Homo sapiens: one gene and its partner. The protein of the gene in region 2 interacts with the protein of the main gene of each other region in a pairwise test. Each region holds a gene or a part of one and is shown on either strand. Other genes may lie near its edges. The genes, in order: GAL and CBS.

Region 1 (4,421 bases), on a different chromosome or scaffold from region 2:
CTTTTTATCTCTGCTCAAAAGACTCAGTCTCTGTCACGTTAAGAGATATTCCCACAGGCCTTCCTTCACACAGCACCATCCCTGCACACACCTCCTGCCCTTGCCTTTCTACCTGCCCGCCCATCTCTCCTCTCCTGCCTTGCTCCTGGCCCTCCCACCTGGCCAACACGTCTGTTCTCAGCACTGACCACCTCCATGAGTACCACGCAACTCACCCATCTGTTTAAGGTTGTTGTAGTCTTTTTCATTCCCATCTCCCTAAAATATCAGCTCCACGAGGGCAGGGGTTTTGTCTGTTTTGTGTTTTTGTTCATCTCAGTAACAGACTTACCTTCATAATTACATTTGACTCAGCTTAATATGGAGATAAATTTATGTCCCCTGGACATGCAATAACAGGTGGTGTCTCAGATGCTCTTGACGGTAGAATTTGGGTTTAAAATTCATGTCTAATCCACGATTATGATCAAGCTTTATCTTTTAAAACCCATGGGTGGCGCTGGTGATGAGACAGAGGTGTGGAAGAAAAAGACAATTGCAAGTAATTGCTATTCTTTATTTTGCCACTCAAAATAATTACCAAAAAAAAAAAATCTTAAATGATAACAACACAACATCAAGGCAAAGAGAACAGGAATGGCTGACTCTGCATAAATTGGCCGAAGATTATCCATTATCTTAAGGTTTGACTTCAGGTTACAGCACACAGACAAACATGCCCAGGAGGCTCTCAGGACCGCTCGATGTCTTCTGAGGAGGCTGCGGCGGGGAGATCCAGGAGGCGGTCGAGGGCACCGGCCTCTGCAAAGGGAAGAGCCACATCTGAGCAGCAACTTCTTAATATGCACATGAGAGAATTACAACCACGACACATGCTACAGGAAGCGGCGTGTGGTCGTCCTCTGTAAAGATTCTTACCAGATTAAACCCAGAATCAGGGACAACACTCTGTATTCCTCACTTCGTAATGATTTAACTCCCACAGTTAGTAAGCATTTAAAACTGTCAGACTTTTAAATTCAGGCTTTAAAGAGGTATAATTCCTAGCTGAGTAATGAGAGCTGGTATATCCTAAGGAAAGAGTTTCCATGTTACAAAATTAAAAACAAATGAAAAACAAAAATCTAGCAGAGTCCCTCTGCCCCTTGTAGGAAAAGTCACCCCAGCTTTTCTCCCAGAGGCTCCACTGGGCTCCAACAGAGGGAACTTGGTGACTCGGTTTTGAGATTTCTAATGAACACCGCCTTTTCCAAGACCTTCTCTGGCAGTCTCCTTCCCCCGCTCCCCTCCCCTCACTCCTCTTCCCTCTCCCCATCGCCACCTAAAGTGCAGCCCGATAACACTGCAAATGAAAAACATCCTGATCCAAAATGAACCCAAGGATTAGCCTTGATTTTTCAAAACTGGACAAAACTGTGATGTGCAACTGAAGGTCTCCACTGGAGAGGCTAACGGTCCATCCCTCCTCCCCACCACCAGCTCCCTGTTAACTCTCAGAGCAGCAGGTGAAGGTCTTCTCCACTGGAGAGGCTAAGTGGTCCATCCCTCCTCCCCTCCACCACCTCCCCCTTAACTCTCAGAGCACCAGGTGAAGGTCTTCTCTGCTGGAGAGGCAAAGCGGTCTATCCCTCCTCCCCACCACTGCCTCCCCCTTAACTCTCAGAGCACCAGGTGAAGGTCTTCTCTGCTGGAGAGGCAAAGCGGTCCATCCCTCCTCCCCACCACCACCTCCCTGTTAACCCTCAGAGCACCGGGGCCGCTTTCCGGCTCCCTCCACTGCTGCAGTAGGACCTGTGTGGTTATCTGATCAAGGCCAGATGCCCATCGTAGAATGAATGCCAAGCGTAGTGTGCGGAGGTCTCCTCATCCCCAGTGTTTGCAGAAGACACTGGAAGCCAGGATCAGAGCCTTTCCAGTTAGATTTCAAGGCAGCCTGCCTGGCAGGAAGGCTGCATAGAGAAACACTGCAGTCTAAGATATGGGCTTCTATTAATTTCCCATGCTTAGAAAATATGGTTTAGGGCCAGGCACAGTGGCTCACGCCTGTAATCCCAGCACTTTGGGAGACTGAGGCAGACAGGTCACTTGAGGCCAGGAGTTCAAGATGAGCCTGGCCAACATGATGAACCCCAGCCTCTACTAAAAATACAAAAATTAGCCAGGCATAATTGTGCGCACCTGTTTTCCCAGCTACCTGGGAAGAAGAGGCACGAGAATCACTTGAGCCCAGGAGGCAGAGGCTGCAGTGAGCTGAGATTGCACCACTACATTCGAGCCTGGGCGACAGAGTGAGATGAAGGAAGGAAGGAAGAAAGAGAGAGAGAAAGAGGGAGGAAGAAAAAGGAAGGAAGGAAGAGAAAGAAGAAAGAAAGAAAAGAGAGAAGAGAAAGAAAAGACAGAGAAAAAAGAAAAGAGAAAAGGTTTAGGACGGTTCACAAAGAACTTGGCCTGTAGTATACCTCTGCCCTAAAAGGTACAGCAGTTGTCACCGTGTGAATAGATATGGTTCCAGTAGAATGAGCTGCACCCTGAGGCCCACTCTCTTCCTGGGACCAGCGCTGGCCCGATGGCCCTCCACGACGGTAGAATGCCCCTGCCGCAATCCCAGCCCTCTGGAGCTAGCTCTAGTGTTACATTCTCTGTTATCCCGACACACAGCCAAACAGGACTTTGTACGTAGATAAGTAATCGGCTACTTCCCAGGGGGATTCTATGGGTTCTCTTCTCGATGGGCCTTTTACGTTTCCAGTGTACTAAGAGATGAATGTTAAGTTGATGATATTTCACATACCTTTGAGATGCAAGAAAGACAGAAACTCAATGATTGTGCGCATGATATTGTTTTCAGGTATGGACCTGTCAAAGCTTCCTAGAAGAGAAAAGATCAACATTCACGACTTGTGCAGAGGGTGCTTCAGTGTCTCAGGTCATCCCCCTCCCTACAGAGGAGCTGGGCGCTGCAAGGTCAATGATCTGATCCCAGCAGCCTGAGGCCCTGCTGTGCTTTCCAAGGCCCTTGTTCAATGTGAGGGAGTTGGGGAGATATCCAGTTCGAGGCCTCGCTTTTCTTCTTCTTCTTCTTTTTAATTGAGATGGAGTCTCACTCTGTTGCCTAGGCTGGAATGCAGTGTCATGATCTTGGCTCACTGCAACCTCCGCCTCCCAGGTTCAAGTGATTCTCGAGCCTCTGCCTCCCAAGTAGCTGGGATGACAGGCACCCACCACCACGCCTGGCTAATTTTTATATTTTTGGTAGAGACAGGGTTTTGCCATGTTGGCCAGGCTGGTCTTGAACTCCAGACCTCAGGTGATCCACCCGCATCAGCCTCCCAGAGTGCTGGGATTACAGGCAGGAGCCATCGTGCCCAGTCCCGCTCTTCTGGAGGCCCTGGTGCCTGGGCAGCCTCCCAGCCTAGAAGGACCCCTTGCTGTCTCGGGTTTGCACGTTCTGTTTGCAGCTGCTGACAGGTGTGGCGAGGCCACATCGTCTTAGTCAAGTCATGGCCAGGCTTGGGCTGCAGCTGTGGACAGCCCCGACACCCACAGCTGTCCCCTGCATGCACCTGGGAGCTGGTGGAAGTGAGGTGCCCCGGGGCCCGGGATAGGAGTCCTCTCACCTGGTTTCATGTCATCTTCGGGCCGCAGCTCCCGCTTGCTGGTGAGGCCATTCTTGTCGCTGAATGACCTGTGGTTGCCAACGGCATCTGTTTGCAGATCAGAGAGGAAAGCCTCTGGGTGTGACTGTCATGCACGCCCTCCCCACACCCAAAGAAGGACACAGGGCTGCCTGTAGCCAACACACACACGCAACTCGACTGTGAAATAGAGCCCAGGGACAGACACCAGAGCAGAGGGAGCGATTCTCCACCCAGCTGAGGTAAGAGCTTGGCCGCTCACACCAGGGTCAAAGGGAATGTGAGGGTTTGCACAGGGTGGGTGGGAGAAAGGGAGGTGTGGCTCCTGAAGTGGGGGAGAGGCCCAGAACCTGCCCTGTTGCAGGGGTTGCGCCTGGGTCCAGAGGAGCTGGCATCTGAGCTGGCACTGAGCTGGCATCAAACTGGGTGACTCCCTGGCAGACAACAGGAGCTGGGTCCTCATGTCCCTGAAAGCATGGGGGACGCTGAAGAGTTTAAGTTGTGACTGAATCTGATTTTTATTTTCACTCTGGCAGCTGTGTGCAAGATGGACTGGAGCCAGAGAGAGAGAAGGAGAGAGACAGAGGGAGCGAGAGGGTCACAGAGGGAGACAGGATGGGGGTGGGGGGTGCAGGAGCGTGTGTGCGTTCCCGTGTGTGTGTGGGTGTGTTTCGTGGTGCGAAAATGGAGGAACTGTGATTGCAAGCACAGAGATCCCAGAATTCCAGGGAAGAAACGATGAAGGCTGTAAACCAAGAGGCGTGGGGTGAAGAGGAGGGCTGGATT
Region 2 (6,434 bases):
AATGGAAATCGGTGTGACCAGTATGGAACACAGCTTGATGGTTCCTCAAAAAATAAACATGGACGCCGGGCGCAGTGGCTCACGCCTGTCATCCCAGCACTTTGGGAGGCTGAGGCAGGTGGATCACCTGAGGTCAGGAGTTCAAGACCAGCCTGGCCAACATGGTAAAACCCTGTCTCTACAAAAATACAAAAATTAGCCAGGCACAGTGGTGCACACTTGTAATCCTGGCTACTCGGGAGGCTGAGGCAGGAGAATCGCTTGAACCCAGGAGGTGGAGGTTGCAGTGAGCCGAGATTGTGCCATTGTACTCCAGCCTGGCAACAGAGCAAGACTCCATCTCAAAAAAAAAAAAAAAAAAAAATTAAACATGGAGTTACCACATTAACCAGCAATGCCACTCCTGGGTACACACCCAAGAAAAGTGAAAAGAGGTGTCCAGACATACTCGGCCATGAAGGTGCACAGCAGGTTACTCACAAGGGCTGAAAAGCAGAAACAACCAGGTGTCCATCACCGATAAATGAGGAACCAAAATGTGGTCTATCCACACAATGGCTTATTATTCGGCCACAAAAAGAAACCAAGTACACGTGCTCTGACATGCCTGAAAATACCATGCAAAGTGAAATAAGTTAGACACGAGGCCACAATTGTGTGATTCCATTTATATGAAATGTCCAGAACAGGGAAAACCTATTTTAGACAACAGAGACACAAAGTCGATCAGCAGTTGCCAGGGGAGGAGGAAGACGGGAGGGGAAATGATTGCTTCACGGGGTGATGACAGAATGTTCCAGAACGTGACAGAGGTGGTGCCTACACAACTTTCTGGATGTACTAAATGCCGCTGATTGTTCACTTTCAAGTGATTGATTTTTAGGTTATTTGAATTTCATCTCAATTAAAAAACCCAAACACGCAAACTGCTCCCGCCAGCTCAGCCCCGAGCAGACGGCGCAGCCCGTGGAGGATGCTGAGCCACCCAGGCTTCTCCCCGCCCCTTCCTGGACTCTTCTCTCTTTTGCCTTTAATCCACTCTGCGCAGTCATTGCCTGTGTTCATCCTACCTGGCCGACTTCTCTCTCAATATTTCCTTGGTGAAACATCCTAAGAGGAAGTTACATTAGAGAAAATCACATATTTCATCTCATAGGCCGTAAACAGGGCCATTTAGGAAGCCATGTGTTAACGAGGGGAGACGGATGCTCTGTGCCGTGTGCAGGGATAACGGTGCCAGGCCAGGCAGTTACCAATCACGCGTGTGTTTAGGGCTCAGGAAAGCGAAGGAGAAGTGGGCAAGGGTGGCGGGCCCGCTCCGCACCGCCCAGCGCTCCGGACTTCACTTCTGGTCCCGCTCCTGGGCGGCCACGAAGTTCAGCAAGTCAATGGCGGTGACCACCCCGAACACCATCTGCCGCTGACTGGACTTCCCGGTGCTGTGGTCTGAGGGGAGAACGAGGCAGTGGGTTTGCAGGTGCCGTGGGAGGCTGGGTGGGCTGCTGCGGGGCAGGAGGCTCCTGAGGGCCTGGGGCACCTGTGCACCATGGGGGCCCAGGGTGGCTGGAGCCCAGCGGCGAAGGCTGTGTTCCTTTTTTTTTTTCTGAGACAGGGCCTCACTCTGTCCCCTAGGCTGGAGTGCAGTGGTGCAGTCTTGGCTCACTGCAACCTCCACCTCCTGGGTTCAAGTGATTCTCGTGCCTCAGACTCCCGAGTATCTGGGACTTCAGGTGCACATCACCACACCCAGCTAATTTTTGTATTTTTAGTAGAGATGGGGTTTTGCCATGTTGGCCAGGCTGGCCTTGAACTCCTGACCTCAAGTGATCCACTTGCCTCGGCTCCCAAAGTGCTGGGATTACAGGCGTGAGCCACTGTGCCTGGCCAAGCCAGTGTTCTTCTGACATGAGCCCCATGAGCCCCCAGGCCAGGTTCTACCCACCACGTGAGTCCCCTGGGCCCCAGGCCAGGCTCCACCCACCGCAGGTCAGGACACACCCTTCCCTGGCCCACCGGCTGAGCTCCTGAGGCACTCATGACTTCAGAGCCGGTGTGGGCATGAAATTCAAACCCGCTTACAGGGCCGGGCACAGTGGCTCACACCTGTGATCCCAGCGCTGTGGGAGGCCAAGGTGGGAGGATCATTTAAGCCCGGAAGTCTGGGACCAGCCTGGGCAACATATTGAGACCCTGTCTCTACAGAATATTTTTAAAAATAAATTAGTCGAGCATGGTGGCACACGCTTGTGGTCCCAGCTACTTGGGAGACTGAGGCAGAAGGATCAGTTGAGCACAGCAGGTCGAGGCTGCAGCGAGCTATGATGGCACTACTGCACTCCAGTCGGCAACAGAGCAAGACCCTGTCTCTAAAAACAGACAAAAACCCCTTGCCACCATGGGCAGCACACAGCTTCCATCTCTGGCCTGATTCTGTCTTCACCCCTCCTGCTTTCTCCTGGCAAGCGTAGACCCGGTGTTAATGCTGGCCGAGGCTCCCATGCCACATACCCAGACAGGGCTGTTGTGATGGTTAATTTTAATACAGATTAACGGGGCCGTGGGAGCCCAGGCATTGGTCACACGTCGTTCTGGGCATGTGTGAGGGGATTCCGGATTAGCACAAGAGTCAAGAGGCAGATAACGTGTGCTACTGTGGAGGGCCTCACCCAAGCAGTTGAAGGCCTGAATAGAACCAAAGGTGGAATTTCCTGCCTTGGGGCTTGAACTGCTGGCTCTCCAGTCTCCGGCCTGCCGCCTCACCCTGCAGATCTCAGGGTTTGTCAGCCTCCGTGATCTCATGATCCAGTTCCTTAACACAGATCTCGTTCCCTCTCTCTCCCCGCTCCCCACACATCCTCTTGGTCCTGCGTCTCCACAGGACCCTACACCAGCTGTCATGAGGCACAGAGGGGTGAGCAAGGTGCGGGTGAGGAAGAGCCCTCGGAGCCCGTCCCAACTCCGCCACGGCTGTCACTCCTCTCTTTGTAGGCAGAGGTCCCTTGGGGTGGCCCACTTAGAGCCCCAGGAAAAGATAGGGAACACAGATGAGATCAGCTCCTTGCATTTTGGGGAAACGGAGGCACAGCAACTGTTGGAGAAGGGAGCCCTGGGAGCCCTGAGTGCCGCAGGCTTCTGTGGCCCTGGCAGCTCGGCCCAGAGTCAATGGACTAGGGCCAGCCAGGGGACTTTCCGACAAGGGCCAGCTGGTGGTATTTTAGGTCTTGGGGGCCGTGCCGTCTCTGTTATGAGCACGCAGCCCTGACGTGCTTGAAAGCAGCCACAGACGGTGGTGACAAGCGTGGACATGCTCCAGGAAGACTTGATTTGGGGACCCTGACATTGGAATTTGCATCTTTTTTTTTTTCTGAGATGTTCAAACACAAGTAAATGTGAGATTAAGAGGGGGATCCCTCCTACCCAAGCTTGGGGGTGGGTCCAGGACCCTGGAAGGCCTCCATTTGCCATGGGGAGGCTGTGAATCTGAGCCTGAGAGCCATTCTGAGGGGTGGGTGATACCTACCTGCAGGCCCCCCCACCACGCCTGCCCAGGCCTGGTCCTGCGCTGCAGAGCCAAGGACGGGAGATGGGGTTAGACTTGGGGCCCTCACGGACCAGCCTCAGCCACCGAGCGCTCACCCCCTGCACACAGGCCTGGTGGGTGGGCAGGCTCCAGGCTCCAGGGCCCCTCCCAACTCTTCCTGTGGGCCCCAGGCCCAGGGCTGCCATCTATGACCCAAAACCTGCGAGCGACTCTCCTGGCCTGTGGGGATGTGGTGGGGACGCCCGGGGATGCGCTCAGGAGTTGCAAAACCTCATGAGCTTGCTGGGAGCGGGGCTCTGAGGACAGCCCATCAGTGGCTCCTGTGAGACCCACATGAGGCTTCCATTCAGAGCAGCCCTCCGAATGCCAGGGTCAGGACTTGAAACCCTTCTAGATGTTTCTGGGCTTGTCCCTGAGAATCCCCAAGACTGCTGGCCTCCCCGGAGGCAAGGGGCCTGGACTCCTGAGCCTCTGCATGCTGGACAAAGGGCCCTACCCAGTGTGGCCTGATGAGGGGTCCCTGCAGGAATCACAGGTACAGCCCACCAGCCCAGGGCATGTGGGAGGCCCAGGCATAAAGACTGGGTGTCACTGAAGGTCGGCACCACCCACTCCCCTAACACCCCGCAGGGGATGGGGGGCCCAGCTGCTGCCCATGGCAGAGGCCAGGCTTGGTGGCCTGACCCCAGTGAGAACCCCACGCACAGAGCAGGGCCCCACTCACACTGGATCTGCTCGTGCACCACCAGGGCGAAGTGGTCCATCTCCAGGATGTGCGAGAGCCTGCCCAGCGTGTCCGTGAGGCGGATCTGCAAGGGAAGCGTGGTCAGTGGCAGGGGGAACATGGCCCCACGAGTTTTCTGTGGAGTGAGAGGGGATGCGATGGTGGGTCCTGCAAAGCCCACCCGGGAGGCAGTGGCAGCCGAACGTGGGAAATACGTGGATTCGGGTGACGTCTCGGGTGTGTGTGTGAGATGGGAAAGAAGTCGAATTCACTCCTAGGTTTGGGCAGAACCCTCAGCCTTTCCAGTGTCAAGAGCCACACCTGCATGTCCCAGGGGATCCGTGTGGAAGGTCACACAAACTTTCCTGGGCCACCCTCAGGGCAGCAGAGGGTGGGTGTCTCAGGACAACCACGGAGTCTGACCAGCCCGGCAAGGAGCCACCGTGGGCTTCTCCCAGAATGTTCTAGCTCTTGTTGGATAACCAAGTGCATGCACAGGCAAATGAGGCTGGGCAGGAGAAAGACCCCGGCAGACGCCGCATGGTGCCCGGGACAGCCTCTGAGCGCGAATGACCTCCTTAAGTCCCCAAAACACGGCTGGTGTGGATGAGCCTGCACTGATGAGAGCCTGCTCTCCGGCTGCTGCACTTGTAAAGTGGGTGCTTCTCAGCTTCATGGTTTGAGGGGTGCAGCCAGCTTCGGCCTAAGTGGTGTTGAGGGTCGAGGACCCAGCACCCCCACACGGGAAGCGCGGTGTCCCGCCTTCGAGGCTGGAGTACTCTGGCACCCTCTGGGGTCCCGAAGTGCCTGAGTACCTGTTTGAGCCGCGTGTAGGTGACTGCGCACCTGTTTGAACTGCGTGTAGGTGACCGCGCACCTGTTTGAGCTGCCTGTAGCTGACCGGGCACCTGTTTGAGCTGCCTGTAGGTGACCGCGCACCTGTTTGAGCTGCCTGTAGGTGACTGGGCACCCGTTTGAGCTGCCTGTAGGTGACCGCGCACCCGTTTGAGCTGCCTGTAGGTGACCGGGCACCCGTTTGAGCTGCCTGTAGGTGACCGGGCACCCGTTTGAGCTGCCTGTAGGTGACTGGGCACCCGTTTGAGCTGCCTGTAGGTGACCGCGCACCCGCTTGAGCTGCCTGTAGCTGACCGCGCACCTGTTTGAGCTGCCTGTAGGTGACCGGGTACCTGTTTGAGCTGCCTGTAGGTGACCGCTCACCTGTTTGAGCTGCCTGTAGGTGACCGCGCACCTGTTTGAGCTGCGTGTAGGTGACCGGGCACCTGTTTGAGCTGCCTGTAGGTGACTGCGCATCTGTTTGAGCTGCCTGTAGGTGACTGGGTACCTGTTTGAACTGCTTGTAGATGACTTTGCCAACTTGGTCTGACGGCTGCACCTTCCCGGCAAGCAGGGACGAGAGCATGTTCCCAAGCGTCACCATTCCCAGGATTACCCTGTGGGACGGGGGCAGGCAGGGGTCAGCGCTCATACCTCACCCCTCCCAGGACGGTGGGGCACACGCTCAGCTGCCCCAGGGAGGAGCGCTCTCTGGCCACACATGGAAGTCCTCTGCCACGAGCCTACACGCGGCAGGAACCAGTCTGGGCCCTGGTGGGGAGAAAGAAACCAAGAGTCCTTGGACCCGTTCAGCCAGGGTCAAGGGTGACCAGCCGTCAGGTTTCCGCGACGTGGGGCTCTCAGTGGTCACTGGGCATGTGTGCCAAGGCTTTCTGCTGTCAGACATGTCCTCGGGGCATCTCTCCCCTGACCTCCAGGTGGGCCCAGGACAGCCTGCACACAAAGGGTGGGTGGGCTGAGGTCTGAGGGCCTGGAGTGAGCACGGCAGCCCTGCCCCAGGCTGCTCAGGGACCGGCAAGGGGCCTCCAATGCCCTGAACGTCTGTATGAGGCGGCCCAGGCGGGCCTATCAGCCCAGCTGCAGGGTCTGCATGGCTGCCCTGTCCAGTGACACTGACGGGGTGGAGCTGGGCAGACAGAACCCAGGACTGAGCTCTGAGCAGGGGCTGAGACTGACCCCGCCTCATCCACCACGGGCGCCTGGTCGAAGCCCTTCTCCCGGAGGATCTCGATGGTGTGCCCACAGGTGATGGTCGGGAGCACGGTCAGCGGGGCTGACAGGCCCAGCTCCTGAACACGGAGGTGCCACCACCTG

The links.
Region 1: the proteins of CBS (region 2) and GAL interact in binary tests that used the Homo sapiens proteins (3 or more experiments, as listed by UniProt).

The regions. Positions count from the first base shown.
Region 1 is NC_000011.10:68,687,297-68,691,717, reverse strand, and holds the end of GAL (galanin peptides preproprotein), read right to left. Parts: intron 3,878-4,421; exon of another isoform or gene 3,715-3,877; intron 3,705-3,714; coding exon 3,618-3,704; intron 2,927-3,617; exon of another isoform or gene 2,870-2,926; coding exon 2,792-2,869; intron 802-2,791; coding exon 731-801; 3' UTR 543-730; downstream 1-542. UniProt on the Homo sapiens protein: Endocrine hormone of the central and peripheral nervous systems that binds and activates the G protein-coupled receptors GALR1, GALR2, and GALR3.
Region 2 is NC_000021.9:43,052,538-43,058,971, forward strand, and holds the end of CBS (cystathionine beta-synthase), read right to left. Parts: intron 6,432-6,434; coding exon 6,297-6,431; intron 5,871-6,296; exon of another isoform or gene 5,754-5,870; intron 5,717-5,753; coding exon 5,608-5,716; intron 4,351-5,607; coding exon 4,266-4,350; intron 3,563-4,265; coding exon of another isoform or gene 3,521-3,562; intron 1,447-3,520; coding exon 1,343-1,446; 3' UTR 654-1,342; downstream 1-653. UniProt on the Homo sapiens protein: Hydro-lyase catalyzing the first step of the transsulfuration pathway, where the hydroxyl group of L-serine is displaced by L-homocysteine in a beta-replacement reaction to form L-cystathionine, the precursor of L-cysteine.